Homo sapiens: one gene and its partners. The protein of the gene in region 3 interacts with the protein of the main gene of each other region in a biochemical or structural test. Each region holds a gene or a part of one and is shown on either strand. Other genes may lie near its edges. The genes, in order: CASK, EPB41L3 and CNTNAP2.

Region 1 (7,111 bases), on a different chromosome or scaffold from region 3:
ATGTAGTTTGGCAGAAGTGAGAGGATTCTAAAAAATGCCACAAGGCCCTTCTGTTATGGACAGTTTTGGATGTACAATGAGGAAGGAATTTCATCCTCACCATCTTGTCTTCTGAATTGTATTCTTAGCTCCTGACCCTGTGCTTGACATATAATAAGGGCTTAATACAAGTTTGTTGGATTAAATTGTCTGTAAGATACAGTAGAGGGGTCATCTAAGAAGCTGGAGTGGGAAAGGGGGATGGAGAAAAATGTCCTAAGGAGAGAGCCTCCCTGGAGCAGTGAGGCTCTGCCTGAAAGCAAGTTGTTCATGGTCACGGGTATCCTGAAGGCAGGATGAAGGCCTTGTCCAGCTGAGGAGAGACTGGGCTGAGGGCAGAGAAGCCCGAGAGTGAAGCCCAGTCGGTGCAGACTGCGGGCATTCTCAGCTGTACTGTGGTATGCAATGGTCATTGTGAGACCAGGACTGGCATGAGGCTGGCCTGCGCAGGAGGGCCTGGGACCAGTGTAGTCAACCAGACCAACAGGAGGAGCAGGACCTGGGCAATCCCTATCCCCAGGGCCGCTGGCCCAAAGAGACTCAGGCAGCCAGGATGCCTATGGCCGGCCCTCAGGGCTAGGTGGATCTGAGAGATCACAGTTCTGAGAGGCAGGGACCCAGGAAGCAGGAGAGAAGAGTGCAGGTGAGCTCATCCAGCACTCAGGGGAGCAGAGGAGAGTGCCCAGCCGGGGTGAGGAGGTGCTTTGGGGCCAAGTGCAATGGGTAAAAGTAACTGCTGTGGGTGTCCTGAGGAGGCTGAGAGAAGTGTCTCCCACTCAGCAGTGCAGAGCAATGCATGGCTGTGCAAGGGCAAGGAGAAAGGGAGAGCTGGACGCTATGGGTGGAGCAGCAGCAGCAGCGGCAGCAGCAGCAGTGGCGGTGGCGGCGGCAGCAGCGGAGGCAGGTAAGGCAGAAAGCCCTCGAAAGTGGACTTAGGTAATGCAGAGGGAGTCTGAGGAGCCCTGCAGCCAGCATACTGCTAGAGACATTACTACCAGCAGAAAACGACGTTCAGGTGAAGACCAGTGTGGAACCCAAGGAGAGGATGTCGAAGACCAGGACCAGGATTGAGACTTTGCCTCTAGCCACCCCTGGCCAGAAGATTTTTCCAATCCCTAGTAAGGAGGGATTAGTAGTTAAACAAAAATCAATCTGTGGTACACATCATATATTTAGTTCTATATAGGTCCAAGTTAATTGTTAAGTAAACGGCAGTGTTCACCCTACTGCTGCTTTCCTCCCTAGCCCCTTGAACAGATCCTTTTGTGGTTTCCAAAGTTCCAAGTTCAAGAACCCCATCAGGTGTTGTAAACGGAAATGGGTGAACCCACTGGCCACGAATTAGGATCCTGGAGCCCAGAAACTGAGCTGTCAGGTCCCAGGTCACACAGACTCTGGCTATATAGGTTCTGTCCTTGCTTTAGGGATGGTTAGGGGACCAAGTCTCATACAGTGGCCCTTGAACAGGGATTCGCCCTGCCTAAGATAGCCAGGTAAGCCTCCTGATGAAACACAGCCTGCTTGAGGGAAGCTGGTCTACTATTTCAGCAGGTAGCATACTGGTTCTATTTCTAAGGGTTAAAGGAGATTTGGTACAGATCAGTCCTAGAAATGGCAGACCCAGGAGTCACATGGCACCCACAAGCCTCTCCTATAACCCACCTTGATGTCTACAACTCCCAAATCCTTCCTACTATACTTTGCCTCCCATATCTACTTGGTTTGTACTCAGAGATGAAAAAACAGCTTGTCAGCATTTTTGATGTAAAGCCTTCAGCTTTCTCTTTTTCAAGTTTAATAATTCCTACTGCAAGACATATCTAGAAACCATTTCATCATCTCTGTGTCTGGCTCTCTTTTGAGTCCTCTTCCAAGTCTTTATCTCTCTCCTAGTTTTTGCTCAGGGTCAGGCATTGTGCTCAGGTAAGGAAATGGCAGAGGCTGAGAGCCACCATGGGTTTCCATCCCTGCTGTCTCTGACATCTGGGCTCACTCATGCTTGCTTTCATAAAGCTAGTGCTGTGTTTCAGACCCAGGCCCCAGGATCAGTTTCTCACTGGAGATTAACATAATGTGCTGGTAGAGGCTCTGATGGTCCAGCGTGAGCTGTACCCAGAGAGGGAAGGTGGCTGTTGTGATAACAAAGTGCCAGAGCCTCATCCTGAGGTCAGATGATCGTAGGATTTCTGGCAGGCGTAGACACAATCAGGAACCTTACTGAGCTTCTGCATATAATAAACCTCTTAAGAGAATAATCTCTGCTTCTTAAATACATGGTGTGTGCACTGAGTCCAACGATTAGTCAGCTGGCATTCTAGACTGTGAACCCCCAACGCCTCCATTACTGATACTTTTCTGTGGTTTATGAAATTATTATGTGACCTGTGACTTTCTGATGGCATTTTTGATTTCAGAATCTGTGCTTATTGGCATGCAGGCAGGATGTCAGACATTCGGGGAGGCTGGGCATTACCTGAGGCTCCACGTCCAGTATTGCAATCAGCCCCTGCTCGTGGATCTTCCGGATGGTCTCCAGTTTTGTCCCATACATCGCATCCTCGTGGCTGCCGTACTCCAAGTACTCGTTATTAGAGATGTCTTGCATCATTTGGTCATGAGATACAAAGTAATAATTCTTTCCATTTTCTTCGTCTTTCTTTGGAGGTCTGGTTGTATCTGCAAAGTCGCATGGCACAAGAGGTTTAAAAGGCTGAGCTGATGAGCTTACTACACTCCCAACAGATTTACTCAAACCCAGTCTCTTCCTAAAAGCTGTGGATTCTTTAGCGTATATCTCATATCCCCTGTTCTCACCCCCAGTGGCTTTGCAGAACTAAATTCTAGAAACCATATTTATCTGTGTGCATCACACCATAGTAGCCAGTGAATTGTCTGGTTTGGTGAAACTTTCAGTGTTCAGGTGAGATGTATTTTATCCCTTCATGAACCACCACAGGAGGAAGACGTGAAATGACCCAAGATTAATATAACTCACTGTATGCCTTAATGCAGTTGGGTCTTGTGTAGAAGGAAAAAAGGAGAATAAAAAAATGGAAAACTGCATATGGTTAAATTTAAATAAGCCAAAATTAAATAAAATTCAAATTTTAGTTTCTCAGTCTCACTAGTGGCATTTCAAGGATTCAATAACCACGTATGGTTAGTGGCCACTGTACTGGACTGCACAGACATCAAGTACTGTCATTGTCACAGAAAGTTCTATTGAAAAGTGATGTTCTATAACATCTTGCAAAAGGAGAATGTTAGGATACAGCAAAAGACACGTTACACTGAAAACACAATGACTGTGGCCAGACATACCCATAATTATTATGGAAGACCTAAATCAGGAGGTGACAAACTGGCTTATGGGCCAAACATGGTCTACTGTCTTTTTTTATTTTTATTTTTTTATTTTGGAGACAGAGTCCCACTCTGTAGCCCAGGCTGGAGTGCAGTGGTGCGATCTCAGCTCACTGCAACTTCCACCTCCTGGGTTCAAGAGATTCTTGTGCCCTCAGCCTCCTGAGCAGCTGGGATTATAGGCGTGTACCACCATGCCCAGCTATTTTTTGTATTTCCAACAGAGACGGGGTTTCACCATGTTGGCCAGACTGGTCTCAAACTCCTGACCTCAGGTGATCTGCCCGCCTCAGTCTCCCAAAGTGCTGGGATTACAGGTGTGAGCCACTGCACCTGGCCACCTACTGTCTGTTTTTGTAAACAAAGTTTTACTGGAACACAGCCATGTGCTTTTGTTTACATATTGCCTATGGTTGTTTTCATGAGACAACAGCAGAGCTAAGTGCTTGTGATAGACTGTATGGCCTTAAAGCCTCAAATGTGTACTATCTGGTCCTTTACAGAAAAGGCTTGCCCACCCCTCACCTAAGTGAGTGTAACTGAAGTATATGCCAATAAGCTCTAGTTCTGTGGATACTAATAGGACCAGTATCCTGCAAAACACACTTTAGGAAATGTTTTTCTAGATGAGCCAGGAACACTGGTTTTAATATTCTCTCTCCCTACCCCCCTTTCTTTTCTCCCTTCCTTCCCTTTTTTTCCCTCTCTCTCTCAATTTCTTTGCTTCCTTCTTTCTTTGAGAAAGAACAAATTTATGCTACTCTCTTCTGTATACATGAGCCTAAACTAATGGGGAATCCCCCTTTCCTGCTAGCCTGTTTGTTAGAACATAAAGTGCTCGTGGTCATCAAAATGTGGACATTTTAAGAGAAGCCCTTTCTCTAGGCACATCAAAAGCTGAAGAACCGGCGTTACTATTTATTTATTTATTGAGACAGGGTCTCACTCTGTTGCCCAGGCTGGAGTGCAGTAGCAAGATCTCAGCTCACTGCAACTTCCAGCTCCCGGGTTCCAAGCGATTTTCATGCCTCAGCCACCCTAATAGCTGGGACTACAGGTGTGTGCCACCATGCCCGGCTAACTTTTGTATTTTTAGTAGAGATGGGGTTTCACCACATTGGCCAGGCTGGTCTCAAACTCCTGGTCTCATGTGATCCACCCATCTCGGCCTCCCAAAGTGCTGGGATTATAGGTGTGAGCCACCGCGCCCAGCCAAGAACTTACATAACATATTGATGTTGTACTATCTTCAGTCATCTCAGTAGTTAGATATATGTTATATACACATACAGGGTCAAATATTTCAAAGACTAGTCATGATTGACATCATCAAAGGTAAGTTTTAAAACCAAACTAGTTAACTGGCCATTTAATAACATGGAAGTTCAGTTGTTACGTGGTTAAGAAGAAGCTAAATGTTAGCTAAGCTTGCTGTACTCATGATCTAGACATAAGGAGAATTAAAAGAACACTTCAAAGTGTTTTACTAGAAAACCCCAGTAGTGCCAAATGAGACACTATTGGATACATTTCTTTTCTTGTGTAAATCAGACAAGGTTTTGGGATGAAGGTTTTCTCATGAAGCCTCCTGGCTCTCTGAGGTGTACAGATAACTGTAAGTGGTATTGACATTGCTTCAGGAAGGCATGTGAAGGCCCTATAGAATGGAGCCAATCTTCACATTTTCTCCTGTTGCTCTTAAAAAATAATTTTCCTTTAGCTCTTCCAACCCTGAGCTGCTAGAAAGCTTCTGGGGTTAAAATTTTATTTATTTTTTTTTGAGACGGAGTTTCACTCTTGTTGCCCAGGCTGGAGTGCAATGGCACGATCTCGGCTCACCACAACCTCCACCTCCGGATTCAACTGATTCTCCTGCTTCAGCCTGCTGAGTAGCTGGGATTACAGGCATGCACCACTATGCCTAGCTAATTTTGTATTTTTAGTAGAGACGGGGTTTCTCCATGTTGGTCAGGCTGGTCTCAAACTCCCGACCTCAGGTGATTCGCCCACCTCAGCCTCCCAAAGTGCTGGAATTACAGGCATGAGCCACCGCGCCTGGCCTAAAATTTTAAACTTTAGAATAATGATGATAATAATGAAATGATAGTGGTAGATAGCTTCTACTTATCCACCATCTGCTAAGTGCTTCATACACATGATCTCAAATCCTCTCTGCAATCCTGAATTACTTCATTTTACAATTGAGAAAATGAAGAGGGCAAGAGGTTAAGAATAAGATACGGAAAATAAGGAGAATTAAAAATCTTACAGATTTGAAAATCTTTACAGAAACAACTGTTAGCATATTGATTGGGTTTAAAAAGTGGTAAGAAATCAACAATTTAAATATTAACTAAGGGAAAAAAATTGTCATATCAGAAACTGTACAACTATGAAAACTTATTTTTCTGAAGAATAATTCATCTAGGTAATGTGTATGACATATTGTTAGAAAAATTGTTACAAACAGAATGGATAAAACTAATTTTATTTAAAACACACACACACACACACACACACACACACACACACACACACTTTATACACATATCTGTACTAAGACAAGCCTAGAAGGGTATACAACAGAGAAGCCTAGAAGGGTATACAACAAAATATTTATAGCACTTATTATAGGGAAAGAGGGGTTGGGATTACTGTTAACTCATTTTCCTCCTTGTTCTTTTTTTGATTTTACAAATTTCCTACAATGAACAGTTATACCTTATGTAATCAGAAAAAAATACATAAATTATAGAGTTAAAAAAGTGATAGGAAAAATATAATGAAAAGAGATTGAGACATTGCTTACGTGGAATAGGGTACGCAAACCGGTCTGGGTGCTTTGTGATGAGAGTGTTTTTTATGTGTCTTCTCCCAACACCATGTGCGCCTATGTCATTTAGAAAAAAAGAATGTTAAAACTGACAACTCTTAATAATGTTCACAAAATGTTTTGAAAGTGAGAATAAGCAACTCACTTACACAATCAAACTTACCTAATAAGACTAGTGTTTTCCTCTTGAATGCTGGCAGTTTTACTACTTCTTCATATGTGACAAGATCTAATTGATCAAACACTAAAACGCAAAGATTTAGAAGAAAGGTAAATTTGTAGAATGACTATTTCATGTACATAAATTATAATTTTACTGGCAAAACTACAGTTATATTAAAACCATGTCTTAAAAATATGAATCCAACTTATGATATATGGCTTACATGTAATTTAAGTCATATAGCATCTAGGGAGAAATTTTCATTTTTAAGCCCATGAAAATGCTCTTTAGAACCAGGGGCATCCAAAGATGCTGAACACATGCATTAAAATGTCCAAATCTAAAAGATACTACATATCTTTTCATGTAGTATCCAACAAATCATATGAATTAATTTGAAACCACATGCTGTTCATATTTTTCCAATTCTAAGAAGTCAGCAATACTAAAAAGAAAAAGTCTACAGACAGTGACCAACATGAATATAGCATGAATGCAACTAAAGTTAACCAGGAGAGGGGCCAGCTAGATCATTTCTAGAGATGGATGAGAAATGCATGGACAGCTGGTCTTTAACTTCATGGTTCTTTCTTTCAACAGAGTTGATGAAGGTGGCATGCTAGATTCTAAGGCAAGTTCTGTAACTATTGCACAAGCTTATCAATGAGCATCTCACAAGCTTTACTGTAACCCAGATATCCACTCAATGGAAA
Region 2 (7,111 bases), on a different chromosome or scaffold from region 3:
CAGAAACGCTCATGGCCCCATGAGATCTTGCATGGCAGGTGACTATGCATGACAAGTCTGTGCTCACATAGATGATATAGTCTGCTCATGATGCTGGCCAAACAGTCACTGGAAAGGTATGTGCTTTCTACAGGACCACAAGACTGCATTTTTTTTGCCTCCTTCTGAGACAGTGCTACGCTAGGGAGAAAAATCATCCCAAAGAATACAGGAAATATAAGACATCCAAAAAGAAAGTGAGTGCTCAGCTTTCAAATTAAAAAAACAAAACTAAAGACAAAAGCATAAACAGGTTACAATCAAACACAGTTGAAGAGAAAGCTTACGACGGGATAATGTTGCCATCAGAAGGAGAAAGGGGTATATATTATTTCCCTAGTATTTGGAACACACAAATTGAGCCTCTCAGAGCAAAACTGCCTTTGTTCCAATTAGGCCACATGGCAAGTAAAATCAAATTTGCCATTACAAATTTGGATAATCAAAGAGTGCAGGCCATGGAATAAAAGGGAACACCAGGAAGACCACACAAGCATAGAAGCATAGACTCTGCTCTTCCTTTATCCTCTAACTGGCAGTGCATGCAAAAACTCCACAAGAATGGAAGCTCCAAATGTGAGACAAACCCATAAACCAATTCTCCATCCTCTTGGTAACCAGCCCAACAAATGCCAGTGAGAGAACAGAGGAAAGGAGGGATCAGGTGAAGGATGAGAGGGAAGTGCCCCATGCCTCATGCCAGCCTAGGCAAGCCTAGAGAATCGGCATCACCTCTTACCTCTGGTCAATCCTCTCCATCTTCTGGTGTGATCTCTGTCTCTTTATGGACCACTACTTTGGTCACTGACATGTCAGGGTGCTGCTCTTTGGCCTCTTTAATTGCCTGAGCCAGCGCCTATCCCCGGGAAATCACAGAAGGGCAGAAACAAAAAGGAGGTGGAACATGCATGATCAGTGGTGAGGTGGAGACTTATGAGCTAGATCTATATCCACAATTTACAAATGAGGTACAATGATTACAAAAGGAATCATAAATCATATATTGGAAAGTTAATTCGGAATTTTCTTCGGAATACATGCTGGACTAGAGGAATAGCATTGAAACTGTAGGACCAACAGGTTTTTCTTTGTTTCTCTGCCAGGGTATTTACCGTCTCACACACACTACCTGGTCATGGTCAATGTCTGCATCCCCCGTGATGACTATTCGCTTCTCAATTCTTGTCTCTGAAATGCCCCCTTTCACAGTCTGCAAGACACGTAGAGAAGCTTTATGAATTTACTCACTGGGAGAAACCATCATGGTTCAGTAGGGGGAAATGGCCGAAGATGCTGACATCATTCACTCTTCGAGAATTGAAATTAGAGTTCTATGGCACTTATTTCACATTTTTAATTCCAGAGGTGAGGACGGAATGGAGGCCCTTGGGTCTGGATGGCCCATGTTTCTGGAACACTACCACATGCCAAGCACTGGAGTAAGCATTAAGCTTAGGATATCAGAATGTATATTCCTAAAGGGGAACTCGCACGTGAGGACAAGTGCATCGTAAATCTAGGGGCTGTAAAAGCTCCCCTTGCAGCTATCCCGGCGTCCTGAGCTTCAAGCCACCTTGTGCTTGTGCAGCCCAACCTGTGAGGAGTTCTGAACAAGCACCTTCCTCCAGCTCGCTCTCAAGGAATCCTCTTCTCGGTTCTCACTCCACTTACTTTGGTGATGTGCGTAGTGGTGGTGGTACTGGTGGTTTCAGATGTGATCGTCTGTGCACTCATCAGCACGCCTGGCTCCAGATCTGTGCCTGGATCGACCTAAAGCAGCAGAGGCATAGACCCCTCATCCAGGTGCTCACATCTGCTCTTCAGAAGTTGGCTACGTTATTTAAGGCATTACGACAATTTCACTATCTCCTATTATGCAATCATTATGCTCTTCAGAGTCTGAGCGCTGCTCCCAAGAATAAGTACTAAGTGCAACCACAGGTAACTGTCATTAAAAAAACTAAGGTTTCAGAAATGTGAGTGGTGGATGGGTGAGTGAATATTTTTCTTTCTCTGTGGCTAGGGAAACAGGTTTCTGAGCCTTTTTCTACACTTCAAGACACATAAAGACTTGGTTAAGTCATCTGCTGCTCCCTGATCACTAATAAAATGACCATTATTGCATCACTTTTAATAGAAATGGTCTGGCTGCTGGATCCTCTAAGTCTCATGAATTAAATATCGTGCAGTTCTATGTAAACACACTAGGCCATAGAGGGGTGAAATAAGCAGCCAGGGCTCTGGTCTTCACAGAATATCTCACCTGTGATGATTCATATGTGATGGTTTTGGTTTCGGTGTGAACTACTGGCACTTCCTTCGTGGAAATTTCTAGCTTTACTCCTCCCGGTGAAACACTGCCAAAACTGATGGTTTCCGTCTTCACCGTTGAGGACTGTGCCAAAGGGGAGTAAGCAGAGTGGCTGTTATAGTTTGCATGAACACATTGTTTTCTTCCTTTTCCTCTCTTGGTGGTTATAAGCACAGGTTAGTATGCTATAAATGTTTATGTAGAGAGTAAGCTGGGGAATGAGGCATACAACATGCACATGTCAGTCTCCTGGACTCTCATAGCACTTTTATATGAAATGCTCCAAGTAAAGCAAAACATTTTGAAGGCAATAAAAAAAAGTTTTCTATTTAATAACTTCTTAGAAAGAAGAAACTAATAATGAGACATTAACTCCCCAAATACTTCAGGAATCTCAATAAAAGAGGATAAAGAATAAAGTTCTGGCATTTAGGACCCGGGTAAACATGGTTTTGGTGCTTCTGGAAAAGTGCACTGATAAGAAATAAATGTATCACATTTTCTAATATCTTGGCCAACTTTGCATTTCCCAATTTTACTGCCAATTATAATAATTTCAGTGAGAGTAGAAACCATTTCCTGGTGCCATATTATTAATAATTAAGAGATATGTTTGCATGTGACACCAAAGCTGGAAATCAGTGTGGAGACTCCTACTAGGTATGAAAGAAGGAAATGAGAGGAGAAATACACTATACATGGGAGAGGCAGAAAATTAAACTTAGCTCCACCTTTATGCTGATCTAAATTTCCAGGCATCCTATATCAGTTTTATTTTAGTGATAAAAGTAACATTTACTACTAGTTACCTCAAAATGAGGTTTTTGTTCCAAAGTTTCTGAAATGTGGATGGCTGCACTCTGCTCCTCTTGTCGCTCACGGGAAGCAGCGGCTGTCTCTTCCTGTTCCAGGACAGCTTTAGCGACCTCCTCCCCTCCTTCCTCTTTAGCCCCCTCCGTCAAGGCAGAGCCCTCTTTCCCTTTAATGCCTGTGAATGCGGGCTGTGCTGCAGCATCCCCGCTGTCTCCCGCCGAGTAAGAAGCATCCCCACTCGCGTGCACCACACGCCGCTCCTCCACCAACACGGTCTCCTGCACCACCTTCTCAGTGCTAAGCGGCAGGTGGTGCACGGTGGGTTCCGTCTCTATTCCACTGGACTCCGTCTTGGTTTCCATTTTCTGCATGGGAAGAGATTGTGGCATCAGTGTGACCATCCATAAACCAAAGGTCAGAAAATAACTAAAGCTGCCACTCGCCAGGATGTCTAAAGCCAGCAGCAAGTGCTTATAACCAGAAACACTGACGAAAAATATAAATTAGCTTTCATTTCTCCCACTGAAATCTCTGATGCCTGCCCCTGCCCCTGGTGCATGCACTTGAACCTGCGCTGCTGCTTCAGGACATCCGCAAAACAAACGGAAGGCAGGATAAAGTGCAATTAACAAAACAAAAACCAAAGCATTGCAGCGCATTCACGTTGGTTTTGGCTGCTTTCTTAGACTCAACTGGTGAGACATAATGCTTTTAGATATTTAATTCTATTAAAATTTCTCAATATGATCGCCTTTCGAATAGTGAAGTACATTCTTGAGATGCAACTAAAGGCATGTGACAGATATGCCAAGCAGACACAAAGGACAATAAGTGAAGACACCTTTGAGATGTTGAAGGCAAAGCCAGCTGGATGCAACCACACACTCACGCCCAAAAAAAGGGTAAGGAAAGGCACATGGGCACATTCAGAAACACCAAGGACGAAAACAAATGGCCACCTGAACCCAGCTTTGAGAAGTAGAAGTAACCCCTCCTATGAATTCTGTTGGTTTTCGCGCAGACTCTAATAAACTGAAGATTTCAGAGCCATCCATGAGCTTTTCCCCAGAAGACTGCTTAGTCTGAGTGAACAAAGAGAGGCAGAGTCAAGCACAAAAGAGAGACACAAACTCAGGCACATAAACATTCACAGCTTGTTAGACAAAATCGTAGGCAGAGGAGACAGGGAGGAGGAAGAACGAAGGAATCTCAGAGTTTGGAAACGAAAAGAATGGGAAATAAAATAGAAAACCAGGTGCTCTTGTTTGGTAAAGCAGAGACGGTTATTAGGATCAGGGTGGCGCCGATTTAAGCAGATATATATATTTTTTCCCCTTCATTGCAAGCCACAGCAGCACTATCACATCTTGGGAACAGGGAGCTGGAAATAAAATGGAAAGTGTTTTAATGCTGACTTTGCACTGCGGTATTGATTTAACCATGAAAAAAAATTAAGAAGCTGGGTTGGCTGCTCTCAACATAAAGCCAAGCAGCAAGAGAAACGGAAAGGTTTGGGGTGGAAGGGGACTGCCTCAAAAACTGTCATGCTGGAATTGCAAACTGTGGCCCCAATGAGTGACACTGGTTACCACTACTCGGGAGGCGGATGACTCAGTAACGTAATGGGCAGTAGCAACGGTAAAGGCTGGTTCCTGGGAATATCTCCATTCGGACAGGCTCTTCCTTCGGGGACCAAAGAGGCCCACTTTTAAGACCTCACTCTCGGGCACTTGCTCTGTTTTGCTGAAGCGTCTGCCTTCCAGGCCAGGGAGGACGGCCACATCCTTCTCCAGCTGTGGAGCCTTCTTGAGGTCATCTTCTTCAGGACTCTGCCGGCGAGACTCGGCCTCCTTGATGGGGGCCAGGGATTCGGACAATTTCCGCTGTGTCGTCTGGACCTCTGGTCCTCTCTTGGATTTCTCATCAGCGAGGGTTTCCAGGACCTCATATTCTGCCAGGCCGGGAATGATCTTCATGGACTCTGGTATTTCTTTCTCCATTTTCTGAAGTGCTTCTGTAGTGGAGGGCTGCTCCACTTTCTCACCCTCTTTAGCTTTCCCAGTCATAGTAACAATTCTCCCGGAGACAGTGTCATAGGATTTTCCTAGAGTGTATATTTTCTGTTTGCTGTCTTCTTTCAGTTGCATTTCTCGAGCCAATTCTTCGAAGCTTTGCATTTTAATAGTGCCAGATTTTAACATGTCAGCTGGGAGATCACCAGTTTTACTGCTCACGGTCACCACCTTGTAAGTCACAATCTTTTTCAAATCACCATCAACTACCTCAGTTGGTATTCTGTCTACAATAACCCAATCCTCTGTGCCCTATATTTGAAATATAAAAGCTAAATTAGAAATTCTGATGGTATCTCATTTCTAAAATAAGAATCCTTTAAGAAAATCAGGGCAACTGCTACATGCAGGTCTGTGATGGGACCATACAGTGCTCATGTTATTATCTAATAATTATGGCTGCAATCTCTTCTCCTCTGAAATGATAAACTATAAACTTCAGCTCAGAATACATTCGGTAGGTAGAGTTGCAACTTCTTTAAACTGGAACATACTTTGCAGTAAATTTTTTGAAGAACAGATTTGCTCTTATGATAAATTTTGGATCATTTTATATTTCAAGATTAAATAACATTATTGATGTTGCTCTATAAGTTACTTAGCTTTACATGTGTGGGGATAAAAGTTTTCCTCGTTAAATATAATCTATACTTCATATACTGTTATCACAGAGAGCTTCCCAACATTCTACAAATTTATGTAAATATTTTCCATATTTGTAAATTGTATTTCTTTATACAGGGAAATGAATCCATAATAGCACTTATTATTCAATAAATATTGAGTGTGACTGTGTTCAAGGCATTGTAATGAAATATTTCCCACAAATAGGACACTATTAGAGCCTCTTACAGTGATCTGTACAGTGTTCGAGTCTTACATTTTTTTTTTAAAAGATGGGGTCTCCCTATGTTGCCCAGGTCGGCCTCGAACCCCTGGGCTCAAGTGATCCTCCCATCTCAGCCTCCCCAGGAGCTGGGACTACAGGCACATGCCATTGTGCCCGCTCCAATCTTATTTACAACTGAAGTTCACTGTCTCAGGAGTTTCTCTCTCACTTTCTTTAGTGTTAGTTCCAATAAGGCAAAAGAAAGGAAAGCTAAGAAACTTTTGTATTCAGGGAGGCATAATACAATATGACCAGGTAGGTTAATAGCTTCACAGATTACAGAGGGAAGAGATATCAAACCAGGAGCAGGTGAGTGCCCTGGTTTACATTTTAAACTAGAATGTTTTCTAGAAACTTTTCTGTTTTTTACAGCCTGAAAACTTAAATCTAGAAATACGTGTGCCTTTAAAAATACCACTACAGATTGATCTACATGTTGTTGCTAGATTAAATGAAATGAATTGAAAGAATAACCTCTAGGGTTGATGGGACAGTTTTCTGGAAAATTATTTGACGAGAAGTAACCACAGAGTCAGCAGAGTCTCCTTCCTGCATTTTCTTTATCACACTTGGCTAGTGGGGAAACCAATAAGAATTCAGAACTTTCAAAATCAGTCAACTTCATCTAAATTAGCACGACTCTACAGGTAAAAACAGGCAGTAAAACAACATTTCAGCAAGATTATTATCAGAAAGTAAGTCAATGACAACATACAGAGAAAAATCAGCTTGGATTAGAAGCCATGAAGAAATGATGCATAACTGATAACTAAAATATTAAGAAAATTCAATTTTCCCTTCCCCAGAATCTAAATCAAAATTATGTACCTACCTTGGTTTTAAACAAGATAAATGTTAAAGGGAAAATAAAAACTAAGAGCATTTTAATGACACTGAAGTCTGAAGACCAATTTCTTCTGGAAAATCCTTTATGTTTGGTTTTTACCTGAGACTCAAGGAATGGAGCGCTTCCTTGCTGCAAAAATA
Region 3 (7,111 bases):
GCTTAAAATTTGTTTTATCTTAGAGAAATACCTAAATTTAACACAACTGATTCTTACGTTTATAATAGGGAAAGAAATAGAAAATTCACTAGGCAGTTAATATTCTTAACTGTTTTGAATTATTACCCCCTTACAAATTCCTAAAGTGTGCCAGTGTCTTATTACAGCCATGAAAAATACAAGTTTAAAGGAATGATTCCTTTTTAAACTTTTTAATACTGTAGCTGTAAAAAGCTCATCTACAAATACATTGAATGCCACCAGTTGTGCATGGGGTTAAAAGTGGATGGGAAGCAGATTTCAACCAAATGTAAGAAACATATTCAAATGCATAAACTCGTCTGTCTGTGGAACTAGAGCAGGCCAGCTCAGGTAGCTCTAGGATTCTCTAATATTGCTCCAAGTGGGAAGTCGTGTTTACCTAGGCCTTGTGCAAAGAGAAACAGCAGGAACAGGGATGGAGGCTGTTGTGATTCTTGTGGGAGACAATGGCAAGACGGGTCCATCTGAAATGGAGATTTCATTTGGGAAAACAGGAAGTGTTGAAGAGTTGCATGAAGAAATAGGTATCAAATTATTTGGGATCAATAGTATACTTGACTCTGACACTTGACTCTTTCTTTCTCTACAGCCAGTGCGGATTTTCCATATAATCCAGGACAAGGCCAAGCTATAAGAAATGGAGTCAACAGAAACTCGGCTATCATTGGAGGTAGGTGATGTCTAGAGGAGGCTTATATGGGGCTACTCAACTATGGAAAGTAATAGTTGTCAATAACATAGTAGTCTAGGAAAAAAAGTTTTCTAGGTTTTTACATTATTCATTTTGCTGTTTAAAGATTATGACATATGATGTGAAGAAATATAGTAAATATAGCCGGGCACAGTGGCTCACCTCTGTTATCCTAGCACTTTGGGAGGCCGAGGTGGGCAGATCACCTGAGGTCAGGAATTCGAGACCAGCCTAGCCAACATGGCAAAACCCCATATCTACTAAAAATACAAAAATTAGCTGGGCGCGGTGGCTCACGCCTGTAATCCCAGCACTTTGGGAGGCCGAGGCGGGCGGATCACAAGGTCAGGAGATCGAGACCATCTTGGCTAACACGGTGAAACCCCGTCTCTACTAAAAATACAAAAAATTAGCCGGGCGCAGTGGCGGGCGCCTGTAGTCCCAGCTACTCAGGAGGCTGAGGCAGGAGAATGGCGTGAACCTGGGAGGCGGAGCTTGCAGTGAGCCAAGATTGTGCCACTGCAATCCGGCCTGGGCTAAAGAGCGGGACTCCGTCTCAAAAAAAAAAAAAAAAAAGAAAGAAAGAAAGAATATAGTAAATGTAACCTGGCTACTTTTTAATGCTGGCTTGTAAAAAACAAATAGCAGTGGAAAGCTGGACAGACTCAGAATAATTAAGTAGGTAGTAGTGACCATAGCCAGGACATTTCTTTATCCCCCTCGGATATTTTTCAGTCTTATCCTTTCGCATCCAAAATGGTCCAGGATAGCGTACTATAAAAAAATGAAAAGGAATGCTGGGTGCAGTGACTTACGCCTGTAATCCCAGCACTTCGGGAGGCCGAGGCAGGTGGATCATTTGAGGTCAGGAGTTCAAGACCAGCCTGGCCAACATGGTGAAACCCCATCTCTAAAAATACAAAAGTTAGCCAGGCGTGGTGGCGCATTCCTGTAATCCCAGCTACTCGGGAGCCTGAGACAAGAGAATTGCTTGAGCCTGGGAGGTAGAGGTTGCAGTGAGCTGAGATCACACCACTGTACTCCAGTCTAGGTGACAGATTGAGACCTTTCTCAAAAAAAAAAAAAAAAAAAAAATACGAAAAGGGAAATGCCAGTCTGATTTCAGTTATCATAATAAAAATTATCAGAAAATCACTGGAGGTCATTATTTTAAGTGAAATAAGCTAGGCACAAAAAGACAAATATTGCATATTCTCACTGATACACAGGAGCTAAAAGATTTACACACATGGAGGTAGAAAGAAAAACACGTAACAGAGATTGGGAAAGTTGAGCAGGAGGAGGAAGGAGAATGAAGAGAAGTGGGTTACAGGGTGCAAACATACAGTAAGAAAGATAAAAGGAACAAGTTCCGGGTTTGCTAGCAGGGTAGGATGACTATATCTAACAAAAATGTACTGTACTTGGTTGATGAACCCCTAAATACTATGACTTGACCACTATTCCTTATATACGTGTAACAAATTTTCTCATGTACCCCGTAAATTTGCACAATGAAAATAATAAAAACTAAAAATGTATCAGAAGATTTAACAAGCTGTAGCATCTAAAATATTCCAGTGTTTTCTTCTCACCATGGACAGCTACATAATAATTTGACTCTCCTCGGATAGCCACTGAGCCTCATGCGTAGATCGATATTGACATCCCTGTTACCATTAAGATCCCAATCCTCACTGTCTTTTGCTTTTTTAAATGAACTTAATTGAAGTATAATACGCATCTATAAGTGTAACAAGTCCGTAACTTTTATTTATTATTATTTTTTGAGACAGAGTCTCACTTTCTGTTGCCCAGGCTGGAGTGCAGTGGCGTGATCTCAGTTCACTGCAATCTCTGCCTCCCGGGTTCAAGCGATTCTCCTGCTTCAGCCTCCTGAGTAGCTGGAACTACAGGCACGCATCACCATGCCTGGCTAATTTTTGTATTTTTAGTAGAGACAGGATTGTACCATGTTGGCCAGGCTGGTCTCCAACTCCTGACCTCAAGTGATCCACTCGCCTCAGCCTCCCAAAGTGCTGGGATTATAGGTGTGAGCCACCGTGCCCGGCCCCAATCTTTTTTATAGTTTGTGGTTGGTTTGTCCTATCTAAAAAGTCTGCCTACCCAAAGGTTTTGAAGATTTTCAGCTTTCTTCTAGAAGTTGTATCACTTTATCATTTGCCATCAGGTCTTTAATCACTTCGAGTTAATGTTTATAAATGGTGTGAGAGAAGAGTCAACGTCAGTATTTTCCAAATGAATATCTAGTCATTCCAAGACCATTTGTTGAAAAAAAAAAAACTATACTTTTCCTCAATTGAATTTTCTTGGCACTTTTGTTAAAGCAACTGACATATGTGTGTGTGTGTGTGTGTGTCTATTTTCTGGGCTTTTTGTTTTGTTGGTCTATATATATCTTTCCTTAGCCAATATCATGCTTGCTTTATTGTTGTATCTTTTTTTGTTGAGATGGGAGTCTTGCTTTGTTGCCAGGCTGGAGTACAGTGGCGCGATCTCGGCTCATGCAACCTCCGACTCCCTGGCTCAAGCGATTCTCCTGCCTCAACCTCCCGAGTAGCTGGGATTACAGGCACGCACCACCATGTCCAGCTAATTTTTGTATTTTAGTAGAGACAGGGTTTCACCATGTTGGCCAGGATGGTCTCAATCTCCTGACCTTGTGATCCACCCACCTCGGCCTGCAAAACTGGTAGGATTACAGGTGTGAGCCATCGCTCCCGGCCTGTTGTATCTTTATACTAAGTCTTGAAATAAACAATGTAAGTTCTCTAATCCTGGCCAGGCGCGGTGGCGCACGCCTGTAATCCCAGCACTTTGAGAGGCCAAGACAGGTTCATTAGAACATCTTAACGATATTTAGTATTTCTATCTTTACATGGTGTATCTATACGTTTATTTGTCTCATCAGTTTCTCTCAGCAACGTATTGTGGTTTTCAATGCGAAGTCTTGAACAGCTTACTATTTCATTAATTTCATTTTCTAAGTGTCTCTCTCTGGCATATAAAAGTATAATTGATCTTTTATATCAGCCTTGCCTTCTGTGACCTTGCTAAATTTGCTGTTAGTTCTAATAACTTTTTTTGTATATTCCTCAGAATTGTCTACCTAGACAAGCATTTTATCTGAGAATAATGAGATTTTTTTACTTGTTTCTTTCCAGTCTATATCCTTTTGTTGTTTCATTGCACCGGGTAGGATTTTCAGTACAAAAGTGAATAAATATTGAGATTTGACAATTTTGCATTGTTCCCTATGTTAGGGGAATGTGTTTGATCTTTCACTATGAAATAGGATATTGGCCGTAGGTTTCCAACAGATGTCCTTTATCAGATTGAGAAAGTTTCTTCTACTCATAGTTTACTGAAAGCTGTTTGATGAATGGGTATTGGAAGTTTTCCAAATGCTTTTTCCACATCTATTTAGATGATCATATTGTTTTACTCCTTATTTGCTTAATGTGGTAAATCACATTGCTTTATTTTTTAATGTTAAACCAAACTTGCATTCCTAGGATTAACATTATCATAATACATGATCTTTTTTACATATTGCTGGGTTTGATTTGCTAAAATTCTATTTAAAAGAATATTGTGGCCAGGCGTAGCAGCTCACGCCTATAATCCCAGCACTTTGGGAGGCCGAGGCAGGTGGATTACCTGAGGTCAGGAGTTCAGGACCAGCCTAGCCAACACAGTGAAACCCCGTCTCTACTAAAAATATAAAAATCAGCTGGGCGTACTGGTGGGCGCCTGTAAGCCCAGCTACTCGGGAGGCTGAGACAGGAGAATTGCTTGAACCTGGGAGGCTGAGGTTACAGTAAGCCCAGATCGTGCCATTGCACTCCAGCCTGGGCAACAAGAGTGAAACTCCGTCTCAAAAAAAAAATATATATATATATATATATATATATATATATATATATATATATATTGCTCCATAGTTTTCTTGTAACATTTTTCTGGTTTTAGTGTCAGGATAATGCTGGTCTCATAAAATGAATTGAGTAGTGTTTTCTCCTCCTATATTTTAAGAAAGATGTGTAGGATTGGTCTAATATCATTAGGTAATGCTTGTTAGTAGTATTGTTCGAGTCTTTTAAATTTTTGCTGATTTTCTGTTCAATTGTTCTATCAGTTACTGACAGAACAGTGTTAAAAAATCTCCAACTATAATTGCAAATTGGTCTAATTGTCCTACCAGTTCTGCCCGTTTTTGCTTCATTTATTTTGTACTTAGGTTAGATTTATACACATTAGGAACATTATGTCTTCCTGATGAATTCACCCTTTTGTCATTATGAAATGTTCTTCATTTCTACTAACAACCTTGTCCTTTGTCTCATATTAACGTAGCTATTCCAGCTTATGATTATTGTTTGCATATCTTTTCCCACCCTTTTACTGTTGACCTGTATTTAAAGTTCATGTCTTGTAGATATCATATAGTAGGCATCTTTTTTATCCACTGTCTCTACTTTTTAATTGGAGTGTTTAGATCAGTTATATTTACTTCTGTTTTATCTAATCTGTATTATTTCATCCAGTATTTTTTTCTTTTTCCATTTTTTTTTTTTAGACAGAGTCCCCCCCCCCCCCCTCACACAAGCTGGAGTGCAGTGGCACGATCTTGGCTCACTGCAGCCTCCGCCTCCCAGGTTCAAGCGATTCTCACGCCTCAGCATCTTGGCTAGCTGGGATCACAGGAGCGTGCCACCATGCCTGGCTGATTTTTGTACTTTTAGTATAAAAGACCGGGTTTCACCATGTTGCCCAGGCTGGTCTTAAACTCCTGACCTCAAGTAATCCGCCCGCCTCAGCCTCCCAAAGTGCTGGGATTACAGGCGCGAGCCACTGCTCATTTCAGACATTGTGTGTTTCACCTCTACAAGTTCCACGTTGTCTCATTTTTTTTCCCCTCATTTTGATCATGTTTTCCTTTAAACCCCTGTGCAGGTTTCTAATAGCTATTGTACTGTCCTCATCTGCTCATTCCATGCTCTGTCCTTTCTGTTTCTAATAGCTATTGTACTGTCCTCATCTGCTCATTCCATGCTCTGTCCTTTCTGGCTCTCCTTCTAATTGACTGATGTTTCTTCTGGTCAAGTGACATTTTGCTACATTTTTTTTCTCTGAATTATTTTTCTCTGCAGCTTGACGTTATTTAGATGTGTTTTAAAGCTTTTTCAGGACAGAGCTAGAGTAGTCTTTATTCTAGGCCTATTTTAGCAAACACCTTCAGCATGACCATTCTATCAACTGTATTAAATGCTCTGATTGTTCAATGAGGTCTCTTCAGTGTGGTTGTTGGACTATAAACATCTCCCAGCCCTCCGTGAGCTCTGGTTTTTTGCCTGGCCTGTGGACTTTTATTCTGTACATGCACATGTTAGTATTATTCGGCCACAAATTCAGAGAGACTTATGTGCAGATTATTAGGGTTCTTTCTATACATAGCTCTCTCGCGCGCCCACTCTATCTCCCCTCTCCATTCAGGGAAACCACTGTGCTTTCTTGTGCTGCCCCTCCCTACACTGCTGTCCAAAAATCGCTGCCAGCCAGAAAACTAGGAAAAATGTAGGATTCCTCCTTTTTGTTTCTCTGTTCTCAGACATCATGGTTCCTTTCTGCCTGTTTTCTAATGTCTGTAGACTGTCATTTCATAGACTGTGTCCAGTATTTTAGTTACTTTTGGCTGGAAGACAAGTTACTCCTGTTTTTCCTGTTACTCCTTCATGGACAAAAACAGACATCTTACTTCATTTTTGTTATCTTTGTTGTTTTGGAGGTTGTGTTTTATATGGGAGAGGGCTGTGTCTGACGGAGCTGTAGTGAAGTGGGGACAGTGTTGGAGGGACTCCCAAGCCCTGTCTAACCTCTCGTGCTTCTCCTTTCTCCGTCAGGCGTCATTGCTGTGGTGATTTTCACCATCCTGTGCACCCTGGTCTTCCTGATCCGGTACATGTTCCGCCACAAGGGCACCTACCATACCAACGAAGCAAAGGGGGCGGAGTCGGCAGAGAGCGCGGACGCCGCCATCATGAACAACGACCCCAACTTCACAGAGACCATTGATGAAAGCAAAAAGGAATGGCTCATTTGAGGGGTGGCTACTTGGCTATGGGATAGGGAGGAGGGAATTACTAGGGAGGAGAGAAAGGGACAAAAGCACCCTGCTTCATACTCTTGAGCACATCCTTAAAATATCAGCACAAGTTGGGGGAGGCAGGCAATGGAATATAATGGAATATTCTTGAGACTGATCACAAAAAAAAAAACCTTTTTAATATTTCTTTATAGCTGAGTTTTCCCTTCTGTATCAAAACAAAATAATACAAAAAATGCTTTTAGAGTTTA

The links.
Region 1: the proteins of CNTNAP2 (region 3) and CASK form a complex in vitro, tested with the Homo sapiens proteins (2 studies listed by BioGRID and IntAct, with this or other methods).
Region 2: the proteins of CNTNAP2 (region 3) and EPB41L3 form a complex in vitro, tested with the Homo sapiens proteins (one study listed by BioGRID).

The regions. Positions count from the first base shown.
Region 1 is NC_000023.11:41,528,495-41,535,605, forward strand, and holds part of CASK (peripheral plasma membrane protein CASK), read right to left. Parts: intron 6,480-7,111; coding exon 6,399-6,479; intron 6,293-6,398; coding exon 6,212-6,292; intron 2,716-6,211; coding exon 2,513-2,715; intron 1-2,512. UniProt on the Homo sapiens protein: Multidomain scaffolding Mg(2+)-independent protein kinase that catalyzes the phosphotransfer from ATP to proteins such as NRXN1, and plays a role in synaptic transmembrane protein anchoring and ion channel trafficking.
Region 2 is NC_000018.10:5,393,899-5,401,009, forward strand, and holds part of EPB41L3 (band 4.1-like protein 3), read right to left. Parts: coding exon of another isoform or gene 7,071-7,111; intron 4,246-7,070; coding exon 4,123-4,245; intron 3,529-4,122; coding exon 3,160-3,528; intron 2,435-3,159; coding exon 2,303-2,434; intron 1,810-2,302; coding exon 1,711-1,809; intron 1,250-1,710; coding exon 1,169-1,249; intron 896-1,168; coding exon 785-895; 3' UTR 779-784; intron 1-778. UniProt on the Homo sapiens protein: Tumor suppressor that inhibits cell proliferation and promotes apoptosis. Modulates the activity of protein arginine N-methyltransferases, including PRMT3 and PRMT5.
Region 3 is NC_000007.14:148,408,760-148,415,870, forward strand, and holds part of CNTNAP2 (contactin-associated protein-like 2 precursor), read left to right. Parts: intron 1-631; coding exon 632-712; intron 713-6,657; coding exon 6,658-6,857; 3' UTR 6,858-7,111. UniProt on the Homo sapiens protein: Required for gap junction formation. Required, with CNTNAP1, for radial and longitudinal organization of myelinated axons.